Homo sapiens: one gene and its partners. The protein of the gene in region 1 purifies or fractionates together with the protein of each later gene. This does not show direct contact. Each region holds a gene or a part of one and is shown in the gene's direction. Other genes may lie near its edges. The genes, in order: SNX9, ECI2, AP2A2, MLYCD, SYNJ2, FCHO2 and SNX8.

Region 1 (3,500 bases):
GAGAGAGAGTGCCTGTGTGCACATGCTGCCCTGTACCTAGCCACATGACTTCCAAAACCTGCTAATGCCTGATTTCCATTACGTGCTACTCCTCAAATGGCAGCGGCTTCTGAATATTACAGAGATGGTGTGCTGTTTGCTTTTCTCTTTTGTTGTAGCATAAAACTGTTCATTTTAGCTTAGTGACATTTGTCAAGAATAGCAACCTTTTTGCTTCCAAGGGACTTGAAGGAAGTTAAATTTAGATGCTTTCCTCTCTTCTTATTTTGTGGAGGTATTTCCTGTTCAGTAGCAAATCAGTTATAGAATATATTAGCATTGTTATATTTTAAACTAATGACTAATCATTTCAGCTTTATTCATACTGTTGCATTTTATATTTCACAGGGAGCAATAGAAAAAGTGAAAGAAAGTGACAAACTAGTTGCAACAAGTAAAATCACCCTACAAGACAAACAGAACATGGTGAAGAGAGTCAGCATCATGTCTTACGCGTTGCAAGGTAAGATGAAAGGGTCCTTATGAGGTGCTGGTGGAAGTTTTTTTTTCCCCAGCAAAGTTTCCCTTGATAGAGAGAAATCCAGATGTGAGCAGCAGTTAAGTAAGTGAGACCTTTTAAGCCCCTCGTTTGCAGGATCCCGGTGCTGATGAAAATCTGTAATATTTATTTAATTTTTCACCTGTCCACCTTATCTGGCTATAGATGACAGCTTGATTAAAACTGTACATTTTATTATTTCTGAGAGACATTTAAGATTCCTTTTGTAATCTGTGGTATCATAATGCTCTATTAAATGCCAGAGCCCAGCTTTTAGCAGTCTGTAACCTGCGTGCCTTGGGATCATGGAATGTGAAGGGGTTTGGGTGTGTCATTTTAGGCACAATTTTTTTGTGTCAAGAAAAAAAAAAGATGAATTTCTATAGGTTTGAGTGTTTTTGAGCAGATGAGGGCAGCAAGTGGATTTTTCCTGTTGGCGGATGGGTGGATGGCACTTGGATGGGCAGAGAATGGAGAGCGTGTTCTGTTAGGAACAAAAGCCACAAAATTGTGGTGCTAGATTGTGTCATGGGCATGAAAGAGTAAAACATACTTAGAGGTTATTGGGAAATAAATTTTGATTGTGAAGGAACTTGAAAGCTCTAGACTTGATGCAGGCATTAAGAAGCCATTAAAAGGGAGTAAAAAAAAATCAATCCTCAAGGGAGAAGGATTTGCTGGTTATGGAGGGGAGATTGGAAGATGCAGACACTGTCCAAGAGCCCAGCCAGAAGACCATCTCACTGTTGTAGTCTGAGCTTTGAGGGCCTAAAGATGTGGTACTGGGGAGAAGAGAATGAAGCACATTTGCAGGCTTTTCCAAGGAACAGCTTTCAAGACTGGGGCATTCATGGGAGAAAGAGAAGGATGAGGGAGGTGTCCAGAGCCAGGCCACTACGGCAAAAACGAGGAACCCTGATTGAAGTTTCGGGTTTTGAAGGGTTTGAAATGGGGAGTTTGGTTTTGAACTTGTGTTTGAGGTTATCCAAATTGAGAAATACAAAGCTTTGTATAACTTCAAGTAACTGAATGTAAAATGTAGAACAGTTTGCATGTCATGGGAATCTGTGCAGCCGCTGGCTTTCTCAGCCTGGAGGGTTTGGGAGAAGGCGGCATAGGAGGCATCCGAGGGAGGCAATGAGGTCCTCTGATGACGAAGACTCCTCTAGAGTTGGGGGCAGGGGCAGGGGGGACAGAGAAAGAAGGAATCCATGTATTCAGCAAACATGAAGAAAGTTGTCCCTCAGCATCCAGTCCTCCTGCCCTGTGAGAGGTTGAGTTCTGACAGCGTCGCTGGTGCTCAGGGGCAGCAAGGCTTCCCGTACTGAAGAAGGGTCTCCCGCTGTCCCACACGCTGCCCAGCCTTTCACCAGAAACCTGCTGAAGCAATTGCTGTGCAGGAGGGAGCGGGGCAGGGACCCCAGCTGCCTGCTAGGTCCAGTGCAGACACACCAGAGGCTTTGAACTGCAGTCATCTGTAACAAATATGACCAAGTATTTTCTATTTGATCGATTCTGTTAGAGTAATAGGCTGCATTTGGGTGATTTATCTGTATTGGATTTTATAGTTTTGAATATGCAAGACAGTGAAAGTCATTCATTTACTGGAAAGTAATGTTTGTCATTAGCTTGTTTTGTTTTGTTTGTTTTGTTTGAGACAGTCTCGCTCTGTCACCCAGGCTGGAGTACAGTGGTGCAATCCCGGCTCACTGCAACCTCCATCTCCTGAGTTCAAGCAATTCTCCTGCCTCGGCCTCCCAAGTAGCTGGGATTACAGGCACCTGTTGCCATGCCCGGCTAATTTTTGTATTCTTAGTAGAGATGGGGTTTTGCCATGCTGGCCAGGCTGGTCTTGAACTCCTGACCTCAGGTGATCCACCCACCTCACCTCCCAGAGTGCTGGGATTACAGGTGTGAGCCACTGCGCCCAGCTCAACTTGTTTTTCTAACCTCTTAGTAAAGTGATTTACCAAGAACTGACAACAGCAGCCAACCAGATTAGGTCAGGTTGATGATTAATTGTAACTGAGCAGAGAAACCAGGTGTTGTCATTTGAAAACTTGAGGGAAAACTGATTGATGTTCTGATTTGGGTTGTAGCTGAGATGAATCACTTTCACAGTAACCGGATCTATGATTACAACAGTGTCATCCGCCTGTACCTGGAGCAGCAAGTGCAATTTTACGAAACGGTGAGTGGGCGTCCACGTGCCTTTCGCATGTGCTTGAGGAGAGGGTTCCTGGTAAACCACTTTGACCATGTAAAGTTAATCTGTTTGTATTCTTTAATCCTAAGTAATAAACCAAAGGAGCCTAAATTTTGGACAGGATTTTTTTAATCTCCTAATTCCATCTGCCCTTTGCTTTTTGGATAACACTGGGTTAAAAAAGATTTTCTTCTGAAGCAGGGGTCTTGGATGCTAGTTGCAAGGCCCCAAGAAGTTCCTTATTGTGCAGCTCCTTCCCCCCGTCACAGCCTCTCTGTGCCTCTGTGCACCAGGAACGGTGCTGAATGAGATGAGGTCACCCAGCCGTCCCTGGGACTCCGTTGGCAGCTGGAACAGGAGCCTGGCACCACACAGGAAACCAAAGGCAGCCTTTGCTTTTTGTGAATGAGGTTTTCACAGTGCGCCATGGAAATCGCAGAGAGAAAACCAAAAAAGCGAGATGTGGGATGGTTTTATTCACAAAACAATAACGAAAACTTAAATTTTTCTTACCTCTGCTTAGTAATTTTGTTGTTTACCAGAGTCTATAGAAAACAAAAATCTAGTAGCATGTCTCCCTCAGACACCTGCAGGTAAGGTCTGTAATGTAGAATCCAGCCTCCGCTGGCGGCCTTGCTGCCTACCCAGCTCCCCTCTGGCCATGGGATCTAAGCCATGTTCATGGGGAGTGGTGAGCAAGCCCTCTGCTCAGCCATACTGGTGGCATCTGCGAGCTGGACACTGCTGAAAACGCCT
Region 2 (3,500 bases), about 150 Mb from region 1:
CATCTCTTAATCCTGGTCTCACCAGTTGGAAGGAAGGAACCCTGATAATCCATCTCCTAATCCTGGTCTCACCAGTCGCCCTGCTGTGTGGTGTTATCATAACTATAATAATGATAGAATGAGTTCCTTATCACTTCCCTCAGGAGAAATGCTTAAACGCTTATTCATGTACAGTCATCCCTTGGTATCCGATGGGGATTGGTTCCAGGACCTCCGTGTGGACAACAAAATCCGCGGAACCTGAAGTCCCCCATAAAAAGGCATAATATTTGCATATAACCTCTATATACACTCCCATATACTTTAAATCATCTCTAGAGTTATTATAATACTGAATACAATGTAAATGCTATATTAAATTGTTGTTATACTGTATTGTTTAGGGACTAATGATAAGAGAAAAAGCCTGTACATGTTCAGTATAGATACAGAATTCTTTTCCAGGTATTTTTGATCTGTGATTGGTTGTCCATGGATGTGGAACCCGTGGATACGGAGGGCAGGCTGTTTTATGTAAAGTCCATGTGTCTTTTCCAGTATATTTGTATCTATAAGTATCAGCCCTCTTCCTCATTTCTTTCCCACACTGAAATCTCATCTAAGGTTGAAATTGCACCTGTTTTAAATGCATTAAAAGCTATATAGCTGCTTGTCCAAGATTTTCAGAAATGTTGCTGATTTAAAATTTTGAGCCACCTTCCTTGAATACCATTACAGTGTCTTGAAAATTCCAGCCTTTTGGCAGTCACTAACACTTCCCAGACTGCCAGGGGCTTCCTTGAGGTCACAACAGAGACGTTGCTTTGTAGAAAGTTTTCTCTGACCACCTCCCACTCTGCCCACACTAGATAAGCCTCAGCACCTCCTCTGAGTTCCCTGCTACTTTGTACTTTCCAACCCCCTCCTCATTTGAACATGTTAATTCCAAATTGAACATGTTAAGTCCTCTGTTAATTCCAAAAGCTCAAGGACTATTTCTTTCTTGGTCCCTTTTGGAAAAAAAGTGGTTTATAGCCTGCAGCTCCTGCCATAGCACCAGGTACATAATATGCACCAGGTAACTGTGAAAGGAATAAAAATTCCTTCAGTTATGTTGGTCCACCTTTTTGGTTATAAAATACAACCAAAATAAATGTTAGGCACTTTGCTGAGAGCAAGCTTGCAGCCTGACATTTGTTGAGTCCATTGATTGATGATTCCTGTGTTCAGAGTTCTTTTCTTTTCCTTGTCTTCCCATTACACAGATGTATCATGAAATTATGCGTGCACTTAAAGCTGCCAGCAAGGATGACTCAATCATCACTGTTTTAACAGGTAAGACATTTTCTCAGGCATCCTAATTAAATTTCTATTTTGAGGGGCCTCTTAATAGATAGGAAATTGAGTTAAAAAGCTCTAAGACCTGGAGGCCGAGGCAGGTGGCTCCCGAGGTCAGGAGTTTGAGATGAGCCTGATTAACATGGTGAAACCCCATCTCTGCTAAAAATATAAAAATTAGCCGGGCATGGTGGCACACACCTGTAATCCCAGCTACTCAGGAGGCTGAGGCAGGAGAATCACTTGAACCTGGAAGGCAAAGTTTGCAGTGACCCGAGGTCGCGCCACTGCACTCCAGCTTGGGTAACAGAGTGAGACTCTGTCTCAAAAAAAAAAAAAAAAAAAAAAAAAAAAGGCTCTAAGATCTTTTCCAGTACTGTCATACTCTGATTTATAAATATACAAAAAATGTTTAAAAAAACACAGATACCCACTCCTTCGCAATTACCCAACATCAATTAAGACACATATGTCCACCAAAAGACTTTTACAGGAGCAGACATGGTAACCTGATTTATAACGGCCAAAACCAGAAAACAAATGTTCAAAAACACATGGATGAATAAACAAATTGTTGACTATTTGTACAATGGAATACTCAGCTATAAAATGGAATAAATGATATACACAAGAATGTGGATGCATCTTTAAAACACAGTTCAGCAAAATAAAGACAGGAGTGTACATACTGTATGAGTCCATTTGTAGAAAGTTCTACAGTAGACAAAAGTTCTTCTCTGTGGAAATTGAAGTCAGAAAGTGATTGCCTTGGAGCAGGTGGGGTGGGATAGCTAGGAAGGAGCCTACGGGAAACTTTTGGGGTGATGGAGATGTTCTGTATCTTGTTTTGGATGGTGATCTTGTGGGTATTTAAAATTATTAAAACTCATCTAAATGAACATTTAAAAACTGGTTGTTTTATTGTATATAAATTGTACTTTAATTAAACACACACACTCAGAAACATACTTTCAGTGGCTCTTAGAATAAAGAAAAAACTTCCTCATGGGATCTACAAAGCACTGTCAGGTCTATTCTGCCAGTCCTCATCCTGCACCGACTTCCCCCTGGCTTTCCCTGAGTCAGCTACAGTGGCTCTTACTTCATCTACAGTGGGGATAACCTCTCCAAAGAGCCTTTGCACAGGCTGTTCCTTTGTGTAAACTGTTCTTCCCAGCCCTCTTTTTCTAGCCCACCTGGCCTCTCCTTCAGATCTCAATTCAGTTGTCGCTTCCTTAGGAAAGTTCTTTCCTGAACTCCCTGATTAGACCAACCCTCCTGGTACATACCCTCATTTCATGACGCACCACTCCTCTATTTCAACAGTAGCATTAGCTACATTTATCGGTGTGTTTTTATAGATCAGTGTCCAGCGTACTCACTAGTTTGTAAGTTAGGGCAGGAACCATTGCTCGTTCTCCAATGTATTTCCCTTGCCTAACCATAGAGTTTGGCATGCAGTAGATACTCAAGAATTATAGGATGATTGAATGAGGGATCTGTTGATTTTCTTACTTATAGGAAATGGTGACTATTACAGTAGTGGGAATGATCTGACTAACTTCACTGATATTCCCCCTGGTGGAGTAGAGGAGAAAGCTAAAAATAATGCCGTTTTACTGAGGTAAGAGTTACTGACCTTTGTCTGATCCCAGAGGGCCCGTTCTTAGTCATCAAAGTGGTATTTAGTTGAGCAAAAGTGCAATATCTGCTTCTCTGTGTCAGTGCAGTTAATTGTGACTTTGGACAAGCATATTTCTCTAAACTGCCTCCATCCATAGGTGGGCATTCATTCTTTCTCTTTGACCTCTGTTACCTGTTCATCCTGCTGGTCTCATGAGATTTGACTGGAAAACATAAAAGTGAGCTATAGTTGTAAACAAAATTATCTTGCACTGAGGCAGAGGAATTTAGCAAATTCTCATCCAGCCAGAGGAATGGGAGATTTCCATGAACGCTGAAGGTAGGAGACTCGGAGGAGTCTTGTAAACACAGGAGGAGGTCATGAAGGCTTTTCTCTTTATTCCTGCCAAATCTGTAATTCCCACTTGTTGTGATATTGCAGCATGTGCTCAGTCACCCAACCTAATCTCTAAGACTGCGGCTGGTTTACAGCCCTGAACTCACTGTCCAGAATACAAGATTCAAACCAGGGTTGACCCATAGGTCTCACTGGTTGGTCT
Region 3 (3,436 bases), on another chromosome or scaffold:
CTCGCCTTTGCTGTTTCTCACAGTCCACAGCAGGAAGTGCAGAACATCTTCAAAGCAAAGCACCCAATGGACACAGAAGTCACCAAAGCCAAGGTAACACGTCTGGAGGGACGGCCCCGGGGGACACGCAGCCCGTGACCCCGCGCCAGGGTCTGGAGGGACGGCCCCGGGGAACACGCAGCCCATGACCCCGCGCCAGGGTCTGGAGGGACGGCCCCGGGGGACACGCAGCCCGCGACCCAGCGCCAGGGTCTGGAGGGGCGGCCCCGGGGGACACGCAGCCCACGACCCAGCGCCAGGGTCTGGAGGGGCGGCCCCGGGGGACACGCTGCCCGCGACCCCGCGCCAGGGTCCTCATTCTCCTGTTTCTTTGGACAGATCATTGGATTTGGTTCTGCACTTCTTGAAGAAGTTGATCCTAATCCTGCGAATTTCGTGGGAGCTGGAATCATCCACACGAAAACCACCCAGATTGGATGCCTGCTGCGCTTGGAGCCGAACCTGCAAGCCCAGGTCAGGCCCTCAGGAAATGGTGGAACACACTTGAGTTGCTTTTTATTCTGGCACAATGTACGTGGTGAGATGTGTAGCTCTTTAGTGCAGTTCAGTCAGTTTTGACAGATGTTGTTTAACCACCACCCTGTCAATACATGGTTGCCTCCCAGCCTCCCCGCAGCTGGCCACCGTGGAGCATCATCCCTAGTGCAGTTCAGTCAGTTGTGACAGATGTTGTGTGCCTGTTTAACCACCACCCTGTCAATACATGGTTGCATCCCAGCCTCCCCACAGCTGGCCACCGTGGAGCATCGTCCCACCATGGAGCAGCCTGGCCCTGGGCGGTGGCTCTCCCAGCTGTTCCTCTCTGTCACCGCGTTGTTCCTTCTCACCACGTCCCGTTCTGGCGACGGACACCTGTCTCCGTTTCACTTGGGTGGCACCCAGGAGTGCTGCTGTCGCCCAGGGCCTGTGTGTGGTTAGTGCTGCAAGAACATCCCACAGCTTCTCCAGGTGGCCGTGCCACTTTGCACTCCCGCCAGCTACGTACGAGACGCCAGGCGCTCCCATGCCAGCCCTCAGTTTTCATGCTGACAGTGTGTGTGGTGCTCAGGCCTCTGCCGAGTTGTGGGTGCCTCCAGAGAGTGGTCCCTGGGCATGGCCCACAGGGTTCTGCATGGCGGATCCTGGACCCGAGGGCTGTGTGAGCCTCGGCGTGCCCGTTGACCTGCTGTGCTCTCTGTTTCAGATGTACCGGCTCACGCTGCGCACAAGTAAGGAAGCCGTTTCTCAGAGATTATGTGAATTGCTCTCAGCGCAGTTTTAGTCCTGAGGATGGAAGACCAGGCTCGTGTGTCTTGTGTTGTCTTCGTCTGTGCCGTTTGTCTTCGTGGCCATCCTGCAGATGAGCACCGTGTCCAGTGCCACAGCACAAGGCGCCTCCCCGCCCCGCCGCCCCACACCTCTCCCCTTTGGGCTGGACGGGAACACACGTGTGTGGCTCAGGAGGAAAAGCTCAGCCTGGACTGTGGCAGCCACGGCAGAAGGTGGATCTTGGGATCAATTTTTATAAAAATCGAGACAGTTCTGTGGTTAAATCTACAAATTAAAGGGAAATTAGAAGTTGGCGTGAACGTGGCGTTTGTGGGAGTGTCACTGAGATGGCCCGTGCTGCCGCCCACCCCGCCTCGGAGCCTCTGGGAGCAGCAGTGCCACTGTGCATGGCGTGGGCTGAGCCTTGGTGTGTGGCCGTCCTGGTGGCTGCACACCTGGCGTCGTCCTGGGCCCTTGGGAGGAGCACAGCTGACCCTGGTTTTGCTGCAGTCCCAGCTGGACTGTTTTCCCAGGCAGGATTTTAATCTAGAATTTAGAAACATTTGTATTTGTAATGACTTCTGGCAAAAGCACGTGTCCTGGCCGGATGTAACTGTTCTCCTTTCCCAGCTCCTGTTTGTGAAGGGCGTCTGTTATGCTCCTGCAGTCGCCGAGGCCTTGGATGTGCAGCCAGGGGAGGAGCGTCCTGCCGGCCCCGCAGGGCCCCCAGGACTCCAGGGTAAAGTGTGGGCCGGTGGCGCAAGACTCAGAGGTGTGCTCGTCTCTTTCCTGTCAGAGTGGGCGTCCCCAGGCCACGGTGCAGGCCTGAGTCCTTCCACCGGCCCCGTCCAGTCGTCCCTGGAGGGGCTGTGGAGGAGGGACGCCTCTGTGTGGTCAGGAAGTGAAGGGGCCATTGGCCGCATGCCATGTGCCACCTGCGGCTTGTGTCTCACCTGTCATCTGGACTCAGCACCCAGGCTGCACGTCTGACACCTGAGAGGCGAGAGAGTGGGGCCGGCCTAGGAGCCAAGGCTGGGGCCTTGCGCTCTGTCCCCAGGATGGTGGCCTTGTTTGTCCTAAACACACCCAGCACAGGTTCTGGCTTCCTGACATGCTGTGGAGGCAGGGAGGGTGGGTGGCCACATGTGCTTGAGGGTTTTCACCCTGGCCCTCAGTTGCCTGCTGTGCGGGTCCCTGGGGCAGCTGCAGGGGCTCATGGACCCATCAGGGTCTCCACAGCTCCCCTGCAGTGTGTGCACCCCACAATGTCTGCGGCTCTTCTTCCGGCGTGTCGGGCTTTGATCACAGCATAGCCACGTCAGTGGCGTGCGCCTCTCGCACAGGCCATTCTGGGTCTGGTGGTGCCAGGTGCCGTGACACGCCGTGCTGGGCTTGTGCTGCAGCTGGGTGGTGTGGCCCTCATTCTCATGTTCCAGCTGCTGGGCAGTGCTCTGCCTGTGTGCTGCGCCTGCAGGCTGCGTGTGCTGCCGTGGATCTCCTGCATCCCTTGACCCCTCCCGCCATCAGAGGAAAGGCTGCTCCCCGAGGCACCGCTTCCCTGTGCGGCGCTGCAGAGGGGCCCTCAGTGTGGCACTCCTCGTCAAAGAAAAATAAAGGCTAGAACTGCACCCCGGATCACGCGCTTTCTTTGGGGGGAAAGCATCCCATGTAACCCTCATAGCTCCCCGGGGGTCGCGTGAGGCACAGACCCCAAGGTCCCCGACCTGTCCTTCAGCAGTGGGCTCACGGGCAGCGGGCATCAGAAAGTGACCTGCCCTTTGCTCCGCCGGTTTGATTCTGGGTGTGTGGTGGAGCTTTTTGGGACTCAGGTCATGCGGGAACCCCTCCAGCCTGGCCGCAGGGCTCCCCACTGTACAGTGTGTTGAGGTGCAGCCCAGGGCTCCTTCCTGGGGAACGGGAGGCCCCGTGGGGATCCTCCAGTTGATCCTACCACAGATGGTGCAGAAGGGGCTCTCGGGCAGATGGGGGTGGCCCCCGGAGGACGGTGGGCTTCGCCAGAGACGGAACAGTCCTAATGGAGGGAGGGCAGGGGCCCAAAGCCAGAGGCAGCTTCTCTTACCAGCCCAGACCCTGCTGGGGGCAGCCCTGCCCAACTGCAGATCCCAGG
Region 4 (3,500 bases), on another chromosome or scaffold:
ATATATGTATGTGTATATGTGTGTGTGTGTGTGTGCGTGCGTATATATATATATATATATATATATATATATATATGGTTTTTTGTTTTGTTGTTTACGGTTTTTTGTTTGTGTTTATTTTTTTGTTCATGTTTATGTTTTTTCTTGTTACGTTTCCCAGGCTGGTCTTGAACTCCTGGCCTCAAGCAAGCAATCCTCCAATCCCAAGTGCTGGGATTATAGATAGGTGTGAGCCCAGATGTAATTTTTTTAAAATCCCTGTCGCTTAAATCAGTCTTAGAATAGAATTAGATTGTTCTGTACCTATAAACTATCAACTGGGATCTGATATTGTAACCTCTCACCAGAATCACTTAATGTGGTATGATCTGATCTATTTTTTTAATCTGATTTTTTTTTTTTTTTTTTTGAGACAGAGTCTTGCTCTGTTGCCCAGGCTGGAGTGCAGCAGCACAATCTCTGCTCATTGCAACCTTCGCCTCCCAGGTTCAAGCCATTCTCCCACCTCAGCCTCCTGAGTAGCTGGGAATACAGGTGCTTGCCAACACATCTGGCTAATTTTTGTATTTTTAGGAGAGATGGGGTTTTGCTATGTTGGCCAGGCTGGTCTGGAACTCCTGACCTCAGATGATCCGCCCGCCTTGGCCTTCCAAAGTGCTGGAATTACAGGTGTGAACCACTGTGCCTGGCTGTGTTCTTACTTTTTAAAATGTTCTTTTCCTCTGATCTGAGTGAGTTTGGAGGCTTGTTACTGCCTGGATTTGTGGCCTCCTGAATGTAGAGGAGTTTGGAGGTATGTGTGTCCCTGTGGTTGCATGGTAGGTGTGGGTATGAGGATGTGATGTGTCTGGGGGATGGTGGTTTATAGGCTTTTTGTTTTTCTCCAGAGGCCCAGTTGGTTGATGACTTCAGTTTCTTAGAGGTGAAATCCCAGTGAAACCGAGTCGAATCCCCAGTAGAGGGGAAGGTCTGAGCGAGGTTCAGTGATTTGTGGGCACTCGAGGAAGGTTGGCCTTTAATTCATGGAAAGGGTTCCTCATGGGCAGTTTGGACCTTGCTGTTAGGGTGGAATGAGAGGTGCTCCAACCTTAACAGAGGCACAGAAACTAGAGAAGGGACCTGGTTCCCACTGCCACAGCCACCCGGCCATGCTAGACACCTGCGTACCCTCTGCCTTTTAGTTAATTGAGTACTCCTTGTTGGTTCTAGTAAATTCTGTGCTTACCTATGCTAAATAATACTTATTTTTAGATAGGACAGTATACCCATAGCATCAAGTGTACACCTGCGGAGTGTCAGCTTACGTGAGTGGGAATTTTCCCCAAATTTCTCAGCCTCTGCAGTGCTACCCTCATCCATGACTTTATCCTCCCTTCCCCAGAGCAGGGCTTCTGGACAAGGGAAGGTAACTTTTCTTCACATACCAAAATAAGCAGATCTTGATAGAGCTTCAAAAGAGAGGGAACCAGTTTCTCTTTTAAAAGGAAAAGTGGGCTGGTCTAAACGGTGTCATACAAGTCAATGGAATTAACAATACACAATACACAGAGCCGGGTGCAGTGGCACGCACCTGTAGTCCCTGCTACTTGGGAGGTTCAGCTGAGCCCGGAAGTTCAAGTGCAGCCTAGGCAACAGAGCAAGACCTGCCTCTGAAAAAAAAAATAAGAAACACTCCAGCAGAATCCACTGAGAACTGTCGCTGCCCTTAGCATCACCAGGATATTCCCCGCAGTTGTGTTTCTCAGTCTTGTATTGGTGATAAATGGTGCCTGAATTAACGCACGTACAGTTGCAGAGGCCTCTTTCCCTGGTGGTGTTTGTATCCTGGCAACGTTGCCGCGTGCTGTGGCTCATCCCAGCCTGAACAGCTGCTGCCGGTGTTAGAACTGAGCAACGGAGACTTCTAACCTTTAGCCTGGATTCCCAGTTCTCGTGTACCAGTGTCACATTTTGTAGCTGTCAGGAGCCCAAAATAGAATGAAGAGATCTGTAGGGGAGGAGCTTTCATCAGCCAAACCATTTCTTTCATAATTAATATTAAATTGATAGTAAAACTAGGTATTTCCAGCTTTTTTCATATCACGAATGTAAGACAGATACCAGTACCTCTTACGCAGAGCTCAGCTCATCCGTTCCTAAACTGGGGTACAGAAGCCCTCCTGGCCCCTGGGATGGTCCATAGATAAGTATCAGAGGAGTCCATGTACCCCAGGAAAACGTATGCACAATTTTACTAATGTATTTGCAGTGTTTTGGGGGCAGGGCCTATGGTTTTTAGCACGTAAGAGTGTGAGAGGATCCCAGGAAGATTAAGAATTGCTATAGTCAAATGCAGAAAGTACAGTTTTACAAAGGGCCATTCTGTGTCACCTAGCAAATGATCTCTTTCATCCTGCCCTCTTGCTACTTCCTAATCACGATTCATTCCATTTTTCCATCTTTTTCATTTGATATCAATCTATTAGTGAATGCTTTGCGAACTATAAAAATGAATCAGAAGTGGATCCTGCTTTTATGGCGTTTACAACCAAGTAAAGGAGATTGAGTCATGGAATGTAGAGTTAAAAGGAATTGCAAAGATCTTCTGGTCCAGCTGTCTATCTAATGCTTAAATCCGTTTTCAAACAGCTCCGTTGAGTTCTGTCCACCTGTGCTTGATGGCTTCCAGTGCTGAGGGTCACCGTCTCCCAGGATGACCTCTGTGGACAGCTCCAGCTATTCAAAAGTTCCTCTTTACACTAAATTGAGTCCACATCTGACTGCCCATGACTTCCACCAGTCAGTCCTAGATTTCCTTCCCCGGCCCCCATGGGGTCACACAGAACAAATTTGTGGCCTCTTTCGTGCCCTAGTGCTTAAACATGTAAAAGGAGACCTCATCTCCTTCCGAAAACTTCTCTGAGCCATCACCCCAAAACCTGCAACTCTTTCTCAGGCGTCAAAGTTCTGAGTCCTTTCACCCTTTAACAGGGATTAAAATGTAAAATTGTTTTATAAAATTTGGAAGCTGAGACAGGAGAATCGCTTGAACCTAGGGAGCAGAGGTTGCAGTGAGCCAGGGTTGCACCACTGCACTCCAGCCTGGGTGACAGAGGAAGACTCCATCTCTCAAAAAAAAAAAAAAATTCTAGCTGTTGTAAAGCCATTCTTATAGGTGTTGCCCATTGTGTTCTTTATGACCCTTGTAGAGAGATTCAGAAGGTCATTCTTGTATCAGATGTCCTGAGATGTTTACTGTTATTTAATAATAATGTTCAGTGGATCTGTTACTATGTAGTTTATGAGTAACAAAGACCCAAAATAACAGTGATTTGAATATGACAGAAGTTTGTCTGTCATGTGAAAGTCTAGAGGTGGGCAGCCCAGAGCTGATTCTGCTCTTTGGTGCTCTTGGTGGATTCAGACTTGAATCTTGTTGCTCTGCCGAGAAAAACCTTCATCTCCAAAGCCACGTCGTGGCCCAGGATGGCTGCTCCAATGCCAGCCATCACACCGCCTTC
Region 5 (3,500 bases), 120 kb from region 1:
CTTCCAGCTAAAGCACGTCCTGCGGCGAGTCACCTTGGTTAGCCGCACGGGTCAAGCTCTGCAAGGAGCTTGCCCTCCTCGTCCTCCCTTCCCTCTGCTCCCCTCACCGCCCTCCCCTCCTCTTTTCAGAAGCTGCTCTGGGCTTCTTGCCACGCGGGCGACACGCCTATGATCAATTTTGACTTCCATCAGTTTGCCAAAGGTGGGAAGCTAGAGAAATTGGAGACCCTCTTGAGGCCACAGTTAAAGCTGCACTGGGAAGACTTCGATGTGTTCACAAAGGGGGAGAACGTCAGTCCACGGTGAGGCTCGCTGCGCACTGTGCCGCGTCTTCTGCTGGGGGGAAGCGTCAGTCCACGGTGAGGCTCGCTGCGTGCTGTGCCTTCTGCTGGGTGAGGCGGCAGAGGGGCCGTGCAGTCTAGGACATGTGCCCTATGAGGGGCAGCTTCCTTCCCTCCCCACTCAGTTACCCTTGTGGTTTCCTGGGTCATAAGCTTGGCGACGCCGGGAATCTTGGGTTCCAGCTTCTCATCTCCCTTCCCACAGTAGGAGACAGGCTTTTGAATTTCTCAAGGAGATGTTGAGTCATGGTTTTCTGGCAAAAGAAATGAACTAATAAAGGGGACTGCATTAAAACATGGAGCTCCACGCTGTGACGCAGGCCTGTGAGAGTGAGGGCCACAGTCGCGGTGGGATGGCTGGCATAGACTTAGATTGCTAGAGGAGACCAGGGTATGGACTTCCCTGTTCAGAGCAGAGGAGAAAAACGAAGTCCAGTTCCCTCAGGTCACATGCAGGGGGTCCTCATTATTTGCAGATTCCATATTGGCTTATTTACCTATTCCTTAAAACTGATTTGTAACCCCAAAATCAGTATGCAAAGCATTTTTGCTGGACAGAGTATTTAAATACTCTGGCCTCGTATTTAAACAAGTTTCCTTTTTAAGATTTAGTACCATGTTTTTCACATTTGTGGGGTCTTTGTTAGGGGCCCCCCTTTGTTCGGGGATCTCATGGTTTAGAATGGCCCCAAGCAGTGTGCCGAAGAGCTGTCTAGTACTTCTGAGCACAAGAAGGTGGTGATGTGCTTTATGGAGAAAATGCACGTTAAGATAAGCTTTGTCCCTATATGAGCTACAGTGCTGTCGGCCATGGTTCAGTGTTAATTAAGCAAATATATATATTCAATAAGGTGTCTTTATATGGAAACATACATAAAACAAGGTTGTATATTGATCAGTTGATAAAAATGTGACCAGAGGTTTGCAGGAACCTAACCCTATATTTCCCCTAGGAGCGATGGTTCTGTGTTCATGTCCAATTCAGTGTTCCTACAACTTTATAGAACATAATTGCTATAAATAACAAGGACCAGCTAAACGTAAAACGACCCAGCTGTGCAGGCTACTGAGTGTGTGTCCTGGGGTCTGCCTGCCTTTCCAGAAGTGCTGGGGATCCACTGGGATGGACACTGGGGTTTCTGGGGGGCTATTGATGAGGAGGTGAGGGGTTCCCTCTTAGAACATGTTTCCTCACACCTGTAATCCCAGCACTTTGGAAGGCTGAGGTGGGCGGATCACAAGGTCAGGAGTTCGAGACTAGCCTGGCCAATGTGGTGAAACACCGTCTGTACTAAAAATACAAAAATTAGCCGGGTGTGATGGCACGCACCTGTAGTCCCAGCTACTTGGAAGGCTGAGACAGGAGAATCGCTTGAACCTGGGAGGCGGAGGTTGCAGTGAGCCGAGATCATGCCATTGCACTCCAGCTTGGGTGACAGAGGTGAGACTCTGTCTCAAAAAAAAAAAAAAAAAAAAAAAAAAAACCATGTTTCCTTGGGAGTCAAAAGTCAGACATGGGCCTCTGTGCTATGGCCACTGCTTCTTTGAAAACAACATATAACCGTTTACATTTCTTCTTGTCCTAAGTTTTCAGAAAGGCACTTTGCGGATGAACTGTCTTGACTGCCTGGACCGAACCAACACTGTGCAGAGCTTCATCGCGCTCGAGGTGCGTCCCTGCCACAGCCTTTTCGGCCATCTGTGCCAGGTCCTGTGACTTCAGCTGGACAGGCTGGGCTGAGCACCTTTAGCGGCAAGATGAGGGTGGCATCACCAAGACAACCTTCTGACTATGGGGAAGGTGGACAGGGAGACACTGGGACATCCAGAGAGGGGTTCCCCAGGAGGCTGCTTTCTCTGTCGTAGGCACACTTTCTCACACCCTCTTGTGAAATGCATCCCAGACATGGTGGCCCAAAGGCTCCTCGGGAACAGCGGTTGTGTGTAATGATTATCGTGGATGCACCATTGGCCAAAGGCAGTGTGAGGCTGGCCGGATGAGGCTGGATTTGAAGCTGGGGAGGGAGACCTCTGTCTGCATGGCCCCAGCTGCCTGGTTGACCTCTCCTGGCTGGGGGGTCGGGGGTAGGGTCAGCACCCCCTGCTGTCCACCACTGTTTGCTCTTCAGCCTCTGGCATTGGGTGGGGCGGGGCGGGGTGCAGGGGCGTTCAAGTGTCAGGGGGTGAGAGGAGGGCTTGGGTGGACCCTATAGATAAAGTTGGGGTGAGATGTGGGAAGTCACTCTCTGCTGTGGGAACTCCTCATCCTCTGGAGGGGCACAGAGTCTTCCAGGCACAGCGTAATCCACAGGCTGCCGAATAAGGAACCTCCTGGGACAGTGGCTGCAGGGCCTCTGTGGGAGAAGCCAGTGACAGCCATCCCTTATTCCTCCCCAGGTCCTGCATCTGCAGCTCAAGACCCTGGGGCTGAGTTCAAAACCCATCGTTGACCGCTTTGTGGAGTCCTTCAAAGCCATGTGGTCTCTGAATGGCCACAGCCTGAGCAAGGTGTTCACAGGCAGCAGAGCCCTGGAAGGGAAGGCCAAGGTAGGGCCCCGCCGAGGGGGCAGGGTGGGGGCCCCAGGGACCCCCCTCACGGCCTGCGGTCTGGGCTCTCGGCAGGTGGGGAAGCTGAAGGATGGAGCCCGGTCCATGTCTCGAACCATCCAGTCCAACTTCTTCGACGGGGTGAAGCAGGAGGCCATCAAGCTGCTGCTGGTTGGGGACGTCTACGGCGAGGAGGTGGCAGACAAAGGGGGCATGCTGCTGGACAGCACGGCGCTCCTGGGTAGGGCCTGCCGCAGACAGGGCGAGGCAGGGAGGTAGGGTGCTCCCCAGCCCCACTTTCCCACCGCCTCTGTGCTATCCAGAGAGCGGGTGGCAGAGGTGCCTGGGATCTGAGCAGTGGACCATGCACCTTGCAGCTGTCACTGCCTCTCCCGGGAGCCTGCGCTTTCCTGCTGGGCCTGGGAGCTCACGCTTCCTCTGTCTCGGCTTGGACTGTGTTTCCATCCTGAGAAGCGAGAGACACCAGGCGGGCTCAGGGAGAGGCCGTGCACTCTCCTAAACGCATCGGTGCCTTTGAATGCTAACCTACTCCAGAAACTTCCTCAGCTGCCTGGGCTCTTGGGCCCTTAGCAGGTGATGTTGGCTTTGGGA
Region 6 (3,500 bases), on another chromosome or scaffold:
AATTTTTTTGTATTTTTAGTAGAGATGGGGTTTCACCGTGTTAGCCAGGATGGTCTCGATCTCCTGACCTCGTGATCCACCTGCCTCAGCCTCCCAAAGTGCTGGGATTACCGGCGTGAGCCACCGTGCCCGGCCTATTTTAACTATTTTTCTACATGAAACAAAGTTTTGACTGAATTTTGACCATGACCTGTCATGAGGTCAGGTGTGGAATTTTCTGCTTTTGGCATCATGTTGGTCCTCAAAAAATATATAGATTTTGGAGCATTTCTGATATTTTGATTAGGGATGTTTGTTTGTTTATTTATTTATTTGAGACAGAGTTTCGCTCTTGTTGCCCAGGCTGGAGTGCGGTGGCATGATCTTGGCTCACTGCAGCCTCCGCCTCCCGGATTCAAGCGATTCTCCTGCCTCAGCCTTCCAAGTAGCTGGGATTACAGGCACCCACCACCATGCTCAGCTAATTTTTGTATTTTTAGTACAGACGGGGTTTCACCATGTTAGCCAGGCTGGTCTTGAACTCCTGACCTCAGGTGATCTGCCAGCCTCGGCCTCCCAAAGTACTGGGATTACAGGCGTGAGCCACCGTGCCTGGCTGATTAGGGATGTTTAATCTGTACTGGAAATTGAACTTCTTTACCTTGCTGTTAAACTCACACATTGATATACTAATATTAACTTTTTTGGGTGAACAAAGTATTACTCTTGTAGTAATAGTATTTTAAAATGACAGAAGAACTTAAAGGAGCAGGAAAGAGTCACAGTACTATCAGCGAGAGGCAGTTACTGTTAATATTTCCTTTTTGTTAGAGAGCTGGTTTTTGTGCAAATTTGGTTGGGAAAGAGTTTGGAGATTAGTTTAGATATTCTGAGTTTGAGGTGGTTCACATATCTTAATTATGTTTGGGGCAGTTAGATATTGAACAGGTGGGTCAGTGCAAGAGTAGTGTGAAGATCTGGATTTAGACATTAGAAGCAGAAAGTTGGTTGGACCAATCAAAGTAAATGGAGGGATGATGGTGGTTGTAGAATGTTCCCCTATTAAGGGTAGCACACATTGAGAAGAGCCAGGCAAAAGGTAAAACTATAAGTTTTGTAGTGTTAAGAAGGCCAAACAGGCCGGGCGCAGTGGCTCATGCCTGTAATCCCAGCACTTTGGGAGGCTGAGTGGGGCGGATCACAAGGTCAGGAGTTTGAGACCAGCCTGACCAATATGGTGAAATCCTGTCTCTACTAAAAATACAAAAATTAGCTGGGTGTGGTGGCGGGTGCCTGTAGTCCCAGCTACTCGGGAGGCTGAGGCAGGAGAATCGCTTGAATCCGGGAGGCGGAGGTTGCAGTGAGCCAAGATTGCACCACTGTACTCCAGCCTGGGTGACAGAGCCATATTCCGTCTCAAAAAAAGAAGGCCATACAAAATGTGTATTCTGTATTTATAGGTTACATGTCTGTAGGATAATTTGTGTCTTTTAGAATTCTATATTTAATGGCTGTGGATGTTTTTTACGGAATAAAATCTCATATGCTAAACAGTAGTTATATAAAACACAGTTTTCTAGTGTGAAATATTTGCTAATATTTTAGATCTGATCACAAAATAAATTAAGCCATGAATGAAGTTCAGGATTTCAGACTTGATGATATATTTAGTTTTGTGCAAATGACTGTCATTAATCTCTTGTTCTATTAAATGTGCATCACAGTGTTGAAGAATAATAAAACTAAGTACAACAAAGAATTATTAAATACAAATGACACACTTATCACAGTGAACCAGCTTACAGAGACAGAGAGAATACAAGAAGTAGCACTCATGTATTTCCTGTTCAGATAAGCATTGGTACTAAAGATAAAAAGAGTTGTGATTCCATTAAAATTTTTTCTGTGGCTGAGCGTGGTGGCTCATGCCTATGATCTCAGCACTTTGGGAGGCCTAGGTGGGAGGATTGCTTGAGCCCTGGAATTCCAGATTAGCCTGGGCAACATAGCAAGGCCCCATCTCTACAAAAAAATACAAAACTTAGCTGGGTGTTGTGGGGCATGCTTGTAGTGTGAGCTACTCAGGAGGCTGAGGTGGGAGGATTGCTTAAGCCTAGGAGGTCAAAGCTGCAGTGAGCTATGATCATACCACTGTACTCCAGCCTGGGTGACAGAGCAAGACTGTTTTAAAAAAAAATTTGTGTGTGTGATATAAATTATTTTAGTTCTATACCAGAAAGGACATTTGAAGATAGGCCGGAAATTCATGACTACATATATGTACTTATTTTTAACATGTAATTTTTGAGGTATCTTTTTGTTTTGCACTTTTAATTGTATTTTGATAACTTTGCTGTTTTTGGTCACTAAATAAGAAGTATTATGATGTGGATATTTGATTTAACAGAGCTACCATAGAGGAGGCATACTCCAGGTCAATGACAAAACTAGCAAAATCTGCAAGCAATTATTCACAACTTGGGTGAGTTAATTTCTTCCTCTTTTTCAGTGTTTATTTAGGCAAAGTTCTTAAGGATTCTAGGTTCCTTTTGAGGACATAACAGTTCAAAAGCATAGTAAAATATATGCTTATTTAAAAGTATCTGTAAATATTAATATATTCTTCACTTGATAGAAAATATAATTGAACTTGCTGAATCAGTCAATGCAGTCAAAACTAAATGAAATTTATTTTTTCCCTTTTTAAAAACTAGTCATTCAATAGTGTTTGAGATTATAAATGTTATCTTATGCACATGCAATGTATTTATTCTAGTTGTCTGTAAGTTCCTATTTAAATTCTGTTGTAGTTTAACAGTGATCTTTAAAAACTCACTTAAGATAAACTTTATTGAAATGATTAAGATGCATTAAAAATGTCTCCTGTGATTTTATAGACTGTCATTAAATCTTCCTTTTAAAAATTTGTATTAAAAATGTGTTCCTTGAAAAATGAAAATAATGAAAAGAATACATTTAAAATGAGATGTGCTCATTGCCATAACAATTATGGAAAGAATAATTATCTAAAAATTGGGCTTTTGCATGTTTAAATTCACAGAAACTTTATTTTTGATGAAGTATTTTAAATGGAATACTTGTTTTAAATTGAAGTTTGATAATAGTTAATTTTTAACAATAGACAGTGATAGAAAGGCTTCTGATACAAGTATAAATACTAAATCAATTCAGAAATTAATATAATTAAGAGGGTTAAGACTTGTGATAATGTAATTAACCCATTTCTATATTCCTGAGGTCCAAAAATATTTTAAATAACCAATGACAAAAAAAATTCAAGGTCAGTCTGTCAATCATTTTATTCATTATTTTAATTTCATCTTTTGCCTAAATAAAGTTGCCATATATACCACTATTATTTCCACTGGTTCCTTGTTAGAACCTTAATTTTCTTTTTTACTTTTAATAAGTTATTCCCATATTTTTTATTTTCTTAGAACATTTGCACCAGTATGGGATGTATTCAAAACATCTACAGAGAAATTAGCAAATTGTCACTT
Region 7 (3,500 bases), on another chromosome or scaffold:
GAATCGCTTGAACCTGGGAGTTAGAGGTTGCAGTGAGCCGAGATGACACCACTGCACTCCAGCCTGGGCGACAAGAGTGAAACTCCGTCTCAAAAAAAGTATTTAAATACCATTTTTGTTTGTGTTCAGATTGAAATGTCCTGAATGCATCAGTATATGCTTTTACTTTTTTTCCCCTTGGAGTGAAAATATTTAACCCGAATGAAAGCAATGAGTAATTGCATCCTTTGCAGAGTAAGTTATAAGCACAGTGAATAGAAAAACTCGGCCGGGCGCGGTGGCTTACGCCTGTAATATCAGCACTTTGGGAGGCCGAGGCAGGTGGATCACCTGAGGTCAGGAGTTGGAGACCAGCGTGACCAACATGGTGAAACCCCATCTCTACTAAAAATACAAAAATTAGCCAGGCATGTTGGCGGGCCCCTGTAATCCCAGCTAATTCCAGAGGCTGAGACAGGAGAATCGCTTGAACCTGGAAGGCGGAGGTAGCAGTGAGCCGAGATTGCGCCACTGCACTCCAGCCTGGGCAACAGGAGCGAAACTCTGTCTCAAAAAAAAAAAAAAGAAAAGAAGACCTGGGTTGCGTTAGTGTTAGAGCGTAGCAAAACCCATTTGTTTGCAGTGAGAAGTGCCAGGAGGGGATTATGGAAGATGTCTTTAACGGAGGTGATTAAAGTGACCACTCACGTGGTTCCCAGGACTCCCGATGGAAACAAGCAGATCTGTGGTTTTCCTTGGCAGCTCCTGGACCCAAGTGTGTGTGGCTGGAGGGGGCCTCTGGGGGTGAGGTTATTGCTCTGGGCGGCCTTTTCAGACCCATTGTCTGAGCAGCACTGGGGGCCCAGCCAGTGCCCTCTGCTAGCCGCTGGGCCCTCTGCCACCTCTAGGGAGAGTTTTGAGAACTCGCCCAGAGCAGAAGATGGGGGCCGGCGCCCTGGACTCTGTCCAGTGACCCCGTGTGCTCCTCCAGCTGACAGGGAGTTCATCGAGGCCAGGAGGAGAGCCCTGAAGCGCTTCGTCAACCTGGTGGCGCGACACCCCCTGTTCTCCGAGGATGTGGTCCTCAAGCTCTTCCTGTCCTTCAGCGGCTCGGTGAGTGTGTCTGCCCTGCCCATGTCCCGGCCCCGGGGAGTCCCCGAGCCTCCGGACCCGCCTTTTCCTCTCTCAGGTGTGGTTTCTTATCCTCCTGGTCCCTTGTTTGGACGCCCAGCAGGAATGACATGGACAAGACTTCTTTCCTTTCCAGATAACAGTCTGAATGTGATTTTCAGAGGTGTCCCTGGTGTTGACTTTGCAGGATTTTGTAAATCCGCGTGGAGATCATGGATCTCTGTGGTCACTTTGAGGATTTAGGCTGGATGGTTTGGAGGGTTTAGGGAGGTGCCAGAGACTCCAGATGGGAAGAAGTGTTGACTTAAAACAAGGCCCTGTCTGACTAAGGACCACTGGAACACAGGCTGAGCCTCCTTGTCAGAGCCACAGCCCACACCTGCATCCGGGAATTAACTTGTTGTACATGCACTCCGTCAGAGGTCTGAGTGGGGCTTCCCTCCTCCCAGCTGCTGCGGCACAGCCTTATTGTGTGTCAAGAAGCTACAGTTCGCAGGTACAGTGGCCCACGCCTCTAATCCCAGCGCTCGGAGAGGCCGAGGCTGGATGGTCCCTTAAGCCCAGGCGTTTGAGACCAGCCTGGACAACATAGCGAGACTTCGTCTCTACCAAAACAAAACTGAGGCCAGGCATGGTGGTGCACACCTGTAATCCCAGTCACTTGGGAGGCTGAGGCATGAGAATCGCTTGAACCCAGGAGGTGGAGCTTGCAGTGAGCTGTGATTGTGCCACTGCACTCCAGCCTGGGCGACAGAGTGAGACCCTGTCTCAAAAAAACAAAAAACAACCCTGCAGCCCAGCTCCTGTTTCCTGGAGGAGGAAGCAGCTGCCAGCCCCTCCAGGGAAGGCGGGTCCTGTGCTTCTCCTCCACCTGTGCCTGCAGGACCCTCTCCCTGTGCGGGGAGGGGCGGGGGCTCCACTGGAATAGAGGTTTCCAGGCTCTCCTCTATTTCAGGGAAACCCCGTCTTGAATGGGGACCTGACGGCCTCTGTCCTTGTCCCTGCTGCAGGAAGACACCCCCTCTCCCAGGCTGACTTCACACAAGCCTTGGTTCCTTTTGTCTTCGTTCCTCTCGGAGGCAGAGGGGCCTTCCCCCTGTGCCTGAGATGTCCCTGGGATGCCCCCGGGGATGTCTGGAGCAGGCAGTGGGATCTTTTGAGCCCTGGGGTTGGAAACCTTCCTTTGGAGGCGATCTGCATTGCCAGCAGAGGAATGTGGCAGGACCTGGGAGGGGCGGTGGGCAGGGGTGCAGTGGGTCACAGGTGGGCAATATCCCTGTTCTGGGGGCAGGACGTTCCCTGTGGCCTTCCCACAGGTATCATTCTCTGTCACTTCCCGGCCTCAGTTTTCTTGCTTGCTTTCTGTTTTTAGAGATGGGGTCTCACTATGTTACCCAGGCTGGCCCTGAACCCCTGGGCTCCAGCGATCCTCCCGCCTCAGGCTCTGAGTAGCTGGGACTACAGGCACGCACCATGCTGGGCCTCAGGTCTTTTTTTTTTTTTTTTTTTTTTTTTTTGTAAAATGAGAGTTGAGTCAGATGATCTTTAAGGCATCTCTGAAACCTGAGAATTCCTGGACACGCAAACAGCTGCATATTAGGGTTTCCCCTTGTATCTCCTGGGTGGCTCCTGACTTTAAGGCACGGCTTTGCCCAGGAGGCCTCTTTCAGATGAGAGGGCTCCGGTGCCAGGGGCTGGGCCTGTCCCTCTGCCCAGCAGCTCCCTGGGCTCTGGTGTCCCTGGCGCCATGGATGCATTCCCAGGAAGGAAGACACTTTTGCCCTGTTCTATTGCGTTTTTGGAAGCTACCAGGGTCTCAGGTATCTCTGGGGCTGACGCCGCCCCGGGTCTGTGGATGGAGGGGCCGTTTCTCTGCAGAGCCGCCCCTGGTCTGTGGATGGAGTGGCTGTTTCTCTGGAGAGCTGCCCCCCGTCTGCGGATGGAGTGGCTGTGCCTCTGGAGAGAGGCTGCAGGTTTGTGGTGCTCCTGCTGTGAAGCCAGGCTGTCCTGTTTGGTGAGAAAAACATCTAAGGGAGAGTCAAGAGATTGCAGAATACTAATGTCAAAGCCAACATATGGAAATGTGTTTCTCCTGAGGAAAGACGACCTCCCGCTCCACAGTGACCCATACCCCACAGCAGCTTTCTTGCTGCTAGTAGAAGAGGGTGAAGCTGTGTGTTTTCCTTTTGCAGGATGTGCAGAACAAGTTAAAGGAGTCAGCACAGTGCGTCGGGGACGAATTCCTGAACTGTAAGCTGGCTACCAGGGCCAAGGTATTTTTCTTTTTTTTTTCTTTTTTTTTTTTTTTAATTTATTTTTTTATTGATCATTCTTGGGTGTTTCTCGCAGAGGGGGATTTGGCAGGGTCATGGGACAATAGTGGAGGGAAG

Evidence for each region.
Region 2: the proteins of SNX9 (region 1) and ECI2 purify together in Homo sapiens (co-immunoprecipitation; one large-scale study listed by IntAct). This does not show direct contact.
Region 3: the proteins of SNX9 (region 1) and AP2A2 purify together in Homo sapiens (co-immunoprecipitation; 3 studies listed by BioGRID and IntAct, with this or other methods). This does not show direct contact.
Region 4: the proteins of SNX9 (region 1) and MLYCD purify together in Homo sapiens (co-immunoprecipitation; 2 studies listed by BioGRID and IntAct, with this or other methods). This does not show direct contact.
Region 5: the proteins of SNX9 (region 1) and SYNJ2 purify together in Homo sapiens (co-immunoprecipitation; one large-scale study listed by IntAct). This does not show direct contact.
Region 6: the proteins of SNX9 (region 1) and FCHO2 purify together in Homo sapiens (co-immunoprecipitation; one large-scale study listed by IntAct). This does not show direct contact.
Region 7: the proteins of SNX9 (region 1) and SNX8 purify together in Homo sapiens (pull-down; one study listed by IntAct). This does not show direct contact.

What each region holds. Positions count from the first base shown.
Region 1 is NC_000006.12:157,938,246-157,941,745, forward strand, and holds part of SNX9 (sorting nexin-9), read left to right. Parts: intron 1-387; coding exon 388-502; intron 503-2,637; coding exon 2,638-2,729; intron 2,730-3,500. UniProt on the Homo sapiens protein: Involved in endocytosis and intracellular vesicle trafficking, both during interphase and at the end of mitosis. Required for efficient progress through mitosis and cytokinesis. Required for normal formation of the cleavage furrow at the end of mitosis.
Region 2 is NC_000006.12:4,125,576-4,129,075, reverse strand, and holds part of ECI2 (enoyl-CoA delta isomerase 2), read left to right. Parts: intron 1-1,244; coding exon 1,245-1,314; intron 1,315-2,838; coding exon 2,839-2,941; intron 2,942-2,956; exon of another isoform or gene 2,957-3,500. UniProt on the Homo sapiens protein: Able to isomerize both 3-cis and 3-trans double bonds into the 2-trans form in a range of enoyl-CoA species. Has a preference for 3-trans substrates.
Region 3 is NC_000011.10:1,009,305-1,012,740, forward strand, and holds the end of AP2A2 (AP-2 complex subunit alpha-2), read left to right. Parts: intron 1-23; coding exon 24-93; intron 94-378; coding exon 379-513; intron 514-1,243; coding exon 1,244-1,321; 3' UTR 1,322-2,936; downstream 2,937-3,436. UniProt on the Homo sapiens protein: Component of the adaptor protein complex 2 (AP-2). Adaptor protein complexes function in protein transport via transport vesicles in different membrane traffic pathways.
Region 4 is NC_000016.10:83,902,115-83,905,614, forward strand, and holds part of MLYCD (malonyl-CoA decarboxylase, mitochondrial), read left to right. Parts: intron 1-3,500. UniProt on the Homo sapiens protein: Catalyzes the conversion of malonyl-CoA to acetyl-CoA.
Region 5 is NC_000006.12:158,061,863-158,065,362, forward strand, and holds part of SYNJ2 (synaptojanin-2), read left to right. Parts: intron 1-129; coding exon 130-302; exon of another isoform or gene 303-359; intron 360-1,928; coding exon 1,929-2,010; intron 2,011-2,738; coding exon 2,739-2,888; intron 2,889-2,963; coding exon 2,964-3,129; intron 3,130-3,500. UniProt on the Homo sapiens protein: Inositol 5-phosphatase which may be involved in distinct membrane trafficking and signal transduction pathways. May mediate the inhibitory effect of Rac1 on endocytosis.
Region 6 is NC_000005.10:72,987,041-72,990,540, forward strand, and holds part of FCHO2 (F-BAR domain only protein 2), read left to right. Parts: intron 1-2,386; coding exon 2,387-2,461; intron 2,462-3,437; coding exon 3,438-3,500. UniProt on the Homo sapiens protein: Functions in an early step of clathrin-mediated endocytosis. Has both a membrane binding/bending activity and the ability to recruit proteins essential to the formation of functional clathrin-coated pits.
Region 7 is NC_000007.14:2,269,442-2,272,941, reverse strand, and holds part of SNX8 (sorting nexin-8), read left to right. Parts: intron 1-970; coding exon 971-1,092; intron 1,093-3,302; coding exon 3,303-3,383; intron 3,384-3,500. UniProt on the Homo sapiens protein: May be involved in several stages of intracellular trafficking. May play a role in intracellular protein transport from early endosomes to the trans-Golgi network.